Regions from separate parts of the Homo sapiens genome. Here region 2 is linked to region 1. Evidence: fine-mapped expression QTL. A gene starts in region 1. The other region holds a variant in brackets. All regions are shown on one strand. Distances are between the middles of the regions.

Region 1 (2,901 bases):
AATATGGTGAAACCCCATCTCTACTAAAAATACAAAAATCAGCTGGGTGTAGGGGCACACGCCTGTAATTCCAGCTACTCACAAGGCTGAGTCAGGAGAATTGCACTTTCTCATCATACTGTGTAATGATGCTGGTGTCTGCCATCTGAGAACGGCCCCCGCCATAGCCATACTCTCCCACCTCCTCCCTGCCCCTGCGCCTCGGGCCCTGCCCTCTCTTCGGCTCCTTTCCTGTCTCCCACTTCCAGCCACCCACCTGCATGAATCCACCTGTCTGTTCCCCACATCTGCACTTGGGCATCGTCACCTGGAGAAAGTTCTACCTCCTGGAAGCCTGAAGCCACTGCAGATTCACGCCTCCCCCCACCTTCCCAGCAATCCTTGCGGGGTGGGAGGTGTTTGTCATCCAGTCACTCATGCACCCATCCAGTCACAAGTATTGATCACTCAGTAGGTGCCCAATGCCATCCTCTGCATTTGGGAGAGGATGTACCTAAAGAGCAGTGGGTGGAGGGGGGTGCACAGGGAGGGCATGGAAAACCAGAAGGGAAGTGAAGGGACTGCATTCTCTGCAGGGATGGTCTCTTGTTCTGAGAGCTGAGTGGGAAGGAAGCCACCTGGGAGGCGCAGCAGGAAGAGCATTCAAACCAGAAGGAACCCAGGGGAGAGAATCTGGATATTTTCAAAAGTGGCCCCGTGGCTCCAGCCAGGTCGGTGGTAGCCAGTGCTTTGGAGTGTCGGCCCCACCACAGGCTCCCGCTGCAGCCCGGGATCCAGTGCCCAGCAGGATGGGGGCAGGTGGCTCTGGGCCCCACTACATGGTTGTGGCAGGGTCCCCCATGTAGTTCAGTGGGGATCACAATCTCCACCTCCCAGGACCCACTCAAGCTCCCATTTGCACAGCCCAAACTGGAGCAGGATGGGGACATGGGAGGTGGGCTCTGGCTGTAGCGTCCGGTGGTGGGAGGTGGGGTCCAGGTGGTGACGCTACTGTCCCTGCAGTGCTCTTTGATGAGCTGTAACAGCAGGCTTGGAGGTGGGGCTGGGGACGACCCAGGCAACCCTGAGGGGAGCTTAAGGGAGCCAGGCAACCCTGGCACTTTTCCAAGGCTTTGCATTAACTCAATAGTTCCGCCATGGCCCCGGGGGTAGTGCCATGTATTTCTGTTTTACCGTCGAGGAAACGGAGGAAACCGAGGCACAAAGAAATGGAGTTAATTCCTAAAGTCACAGGGCCAGGAGGTGGCTGAGTGGGGATTCGAACTCACACCCCAGAGGGCACACACAGGCAGGCCCCTGCACACACGCGCGCGCGCGCGCGCACACACACATACACACACACGTGTCCTGGAGGAGGCGGCCCGCAGGGCGGGACAGGGCGGGGCGGGGGCAGGTCCCGGCCGCCGGGAGGAAGTGGCCGGGCGGTCGCAGGGACTCCGGGGCGACCGCCGCGAGTCCGCAGTAGTTCGGGCCATGGAGGCGGAGCCGCCGCTCTACCCGATGGCGGGGGCTGCGGGGCCGCAGGGCGACGAGGACCTGCTCGGGGTCCCGGACGGGCCCGAGGCCCCGGTGAGCGGGGACCCGGAGTGCGAGGCGCGGGCGTCCCCTGTGGGCCAGGGTCCCCCCGGCGGGGGCGGGGCGGGCCGGGGGGCGGCGGGCACCGGGGGACACGGGTTCGGGGCGCGATCGCGGGTGCGAGCGGCGTGCGTGGCTCGCAGCTGGACGAGCTGGTGGGCGCGTACCCCAACTACAACGAGGAGGAGGAGGAGCGCCGCTACTACCGCCGCAAGCGCCTGGGCGTGCTCAAGAACGTGCTGGCTGCCAGCGCCGGGGGCATGCTCACCTACGGCGTCTACCTGGGTAGGTGCCGCTCGGGGACCCGGGGCCGCCCCGCCCGCTCCCAGCCCGGCCCGGGAAACAGAAACCGCGGGCCGCCGCCTCCCGCCCGCTCTCACTTCCCCTCCGCTGCCCTCGCAGCTGCAGCCACGGCCCCCCGCGGCGGGGGTGGGGTTGGGGGGTCAAGTAGCGCAGCGTCCCCGGGTCCCAGCCAGAGCCTCGGTGTGGGTGGGGGACGGGGGTCCGGGCTCCCGGACAGACCTGCCACCGTCAGAATTGGAGGCCGGCGGAGCAAGGCGGGTGGGGGTCTGGGCTTAGCTGGCCAAGTGGCCGCGGGCTGGCAGAAGGCGTGGCGCAGCCCGGGAACCCCGCTGTCCTGAGGGGCGCTGTCAGCGGGAATGCCTTCGGTGATTGGAGCTCCCTGCGAGGCCTGCATGCCGTCTTCTGCTCGGTGGCGCCCAAAGCTAGGCTGCTCCCTGCACGCCGCTCTCTGTCCTGTCCCCAGGCCTCCTGCAGATGCAGCTGATCCTGCACTACGACGAGACCTACCGCGAGGTGAAGTATGGCAACATGGGGCTGCCCGACATCGACAGCAAAATGCTGATGGGCATCAACGTGACTCCCATCGCCGCCCTGCTCTACACACCTGTGCTCATCAGGTGGGCGCGGCTGCTCCTGTGGGATGCTGCGGTACTCCCATTTCGGAGGGGTACAGAGGCCGGCGGGCCAGGAGGTGTCCATCTGCCGGGGTGTTTGTGGGGCGAGGGAACAAGGGAGAGGTTTTTTTCTACCCGGAAGCCTGAGAGTGAAGGGGGTGAAACTCGGATTTGGGGAAGGAAACAGGAACTTTGCCTCAGGGCACATTTGGTTTCCAGCAACAGATTCACACGGGCTGAGCTCCCTCCCAGCTTGCCTGGGCCTCACGTGGCACCCTCCTCGTGGCCTCCTTGGAGGCCTCCCAGAGCCACTGTGGCCTTCAGGGTTGGGGCTGTAGAGTTAGGGGTTTCTGATCGGTCAGCAAAGTCCAGGCACCCATGCCTGGCCCAGTCGCTGTGACTGGTGCTG
Region 2 (2,901 bases), 130 kb before region 1:
TGCCTGTAATCCCAGCTACTTGGGAGGCTGAGGATCACGCCACTGTACTCCAGCCTGGGAGACAGAGCAAGACTGTGTCTCAAAAAAAAAAAAAAAGGTTAAGTACCTGTGTTATTCAAGGGGTGCTTTGGTTTAAGCATGAATGGGATGGGGGGAAAGTAGTAATTTAATGTGATACCAGTATTATGGGGAGCAGTTATGGGAATTGAGAAAGACACTGTTGTTTGTAGAGGGACTAAGGCCCTCCAAGGGGGACAAGAAGAATTATAATTGGTGGTACCATCAGGGAAAATATGTGTGGAATTCCAAGGCGAGGAAATATAGTGAGGCCTGGCTGACTCTCCCTCCCCCTACCCACTTCCTGTCATGGCCTCAACTAGATTTTCAGGTGCATGTGTTTTTTTTTTTTTTTTTTTTTTTTTTTCTGGTCATGGTATGCCAGAGGCAGTATCATGGCCAAGCTTTTATTGTGCCCCATATCGATGCCAGGGTGGTGTGCTACCTGCCCTGGCTATATTATGTCCCTAAGTGGGACCGCTGTGGCCAAGAGACTTAGAATCAAAAGACGTGTAGACAGTTAAATATGCTAGGCCAGATGAAATGGAGGTGGACAGGCACTCATTCATCCCTTTTTTTTTTTTTTTTTAGACAGAGTCTCGCTCTGTTGCCCAGGCTGGAGTGACCCTGGGAGGTGGAGCTTGCGGTGAGCTGAGATCACGCCACCGCACTCCAGTCTGGGCGACAGAGCGAGACTCCATCTCAAAACTAACAAACAAAAAATTGAAAAGCAAAATTTCTTATAATTTCATTAAGAGCAAATCAATACCTTAAGCAGACCTTCTTTTAACATAGGGGACCATTCCTTAGAAAGGAGAAATAATCTCCTTTTAATCGCAGCTAACTTAATCACAAACAAAATTCCTGTTTTTGTAAATTCCCCTTTACAAATCTTTTTTTTTTTTTTTTTTTTTTTGAGACGGAGTCTCGCTCTGTCGCCCAGGCTGGAGTGCAGTGGCGGGATCTCGGCTCACTGCAAGCTCCGCCTCCCGGGTTCACGCCATTCTCCTGCCTCAGCCTCCCAAGTAGCTGGGACTACAGGCGCCCGCCACTACGCCCGGCTAATTTTTTGTATTTTTAGTAGAGACAGGGTTTCACCGTTTTAGCCGGGATGGTCTCCATCTCCTGACCTCGTGATCCGCCCGCCTCGGCCTCCCAAAGTGCTGGGATTACAGGCCTGAGCCACCGCGCCCGGCCTC[C/T]CCTTTACAAATCTTATCACAACTTACACAAACCATCTATGTCCTGCTTGGACTTTCTGACTTGTCCTAGACTATTTCTCTCTTTCTTCATTTTCTCTTTCTTTTTTTTTTTTTGAGATGGAGTTTTGCTCTTGTTGCCCAGGATGGAGTGCAATGGTGTGATCTCAGCTCACCACAACCTCCGCCTCCCAGGTTCAAGCAATTCTCCTGCCTCAGCCTCTCTAGTAGCTGGGATTACAGGTCTGTGCCACCATGCCCAGCTAATTTTGAATTTTTAGTAGAGACGGGGTTTCTCCATGTTGGTCAGGCTGGTCTCGAACTCCCGACCTCAGGTGATCCACCCGCCTCAGCCTCCCAAAGTGCTGGGATTACAGGCATGAGCCACCACACCCAGCTTCTCTCTGTCTTCCTTCCTTCCTTTCCTTCCTTCCTTCTCTCTCTCTCCCTCCCTCCCTCCATCCCTCCCTCCCTCCCTCCTTCCTTCCTTCCTTCCTCTCTCTCTCCCTCTCTCTCCTTCCTTCCTTCCTTCTTTCCTTCCTTCTTTCTTTCCTTTTTTAAAGACAGGGTCTTGTTCTGTTGCTCAGGATGAAATGCAGTGGCACAATCTTGGCTCACTGCAGCCTGAATCTCCTCGGCTTAAGCAATCTTCCCACCTTAGCCTCCCGAGTACCTGGGACTACAGGCACATGCTGCCATGCCCAGCTAAGTTTTATATTTTTGGGGAGACAGTGTTTCACCATGTTCCCCAGGCTGGTCTCAAACTCCTGAGCTCAAATGATCCCCCTGCCTCAGCCTCCCAAAGTTTTGGGATTACAGGTGTGAGCCACCACATCTGGCCTTCCTCTTTCTTAAATAACCAGTCATTCTACTCTAGGACAATAATTTTCCATACAAGATCCTTTCTCATATAAAGGTATTGTCTTTTCTTTATAAGCTTCTTTGCCAAAAATACATCTTTGTATCCATAATTTTTTTCACATCTCTCTCTCCCCTACTTAATGGTTTCTTTCAACCTTGTTTAAGGACCTTTTTTTTTTTTTTTTTTTGAGATGGAGTTTCACTCTTGTCGCCCAGGCTGGAGTGCAATGGCATGATCTCAGCTCACTGCAACCTCTGCCTCCCCAGTTCAAGAGATTCTCCTGCCTCAGCCTCCTGAGTAGCTGGAATTACAGGCGCCCACCACCACACCCAGCTAATTTTTGTATTTTTAGTAGAGATGGGGTTTCACCATGTTGCTCAGGCTGGTCTCAAACTCCTGACCTCAGGTGATCCACCTGCCTTGGCCTCCCAAAGTGCTGGGATTACAGGTGTGAGCCACTGCGTCTGGCCAAGAACCACTTTTAACTCCATAATTTGAATTGACTTTTAGATAACTTTTTTTTTTTGGTATTTTTAGTAGAGATGTGTTTCACCATGTTGGCCAGGCTGGTCTTGAACTCCTGACCTGAAGTAATCCACCCAACTTGGCCTCCCAAAGTGCTGGGTTTACAGGCATGAGCCACTGCGTCTGGGCAGATAACTTCTGAATTAGACAAAATTCTTCTTTTTCTCAATAAGAACACATCTTTGGCACATTTTATATAAATCTAGAAAGCAAGAAATCCTGAAATGCCCATTAGATATTAGCATTTTATGGATGAGCAGC

Evidence for each region. PIP is the estimated chance that this variant, and not a neighbour inherited with it, causes the effect.
Region 2: its variant is fine-mapped to the expression of UNC93B1 in whole blood (TOPMed, PIP above 0.99).

Annotation. Positions count from the first base shown.
Region 1 is chr11:68,002,616-68,005,516 of GRCh38, reverse strand. UNC93B1 (unc-93B1 regulator of TLR signaling) reads left to right here and starts at 1,420. Exons shown (of 11, transcript NM_030930.4): 1 at 1,420-1,569; 2 at 1,719-1,860; 3 at 2,342-2,495. The coding sequence starts at 1,474. RefSeq lists enhancers at 377-919, 920-1,463, 2,368-2,417, 2,518-2,567, 2,668-2,867 and silencers at 1,298-1,597, 1,658-2,067.
Region 2 is chr11:68,131,376-68,134,276 of GRCh38, reverse strand. No RefSeq gene overlaps it. Among named protein-coding and RNA genes, the nearest start is that of CHKA-DT, 11 kb to the right of the region's middle. The variant C/T (reference allele first, on the strand shown) is at 1,257.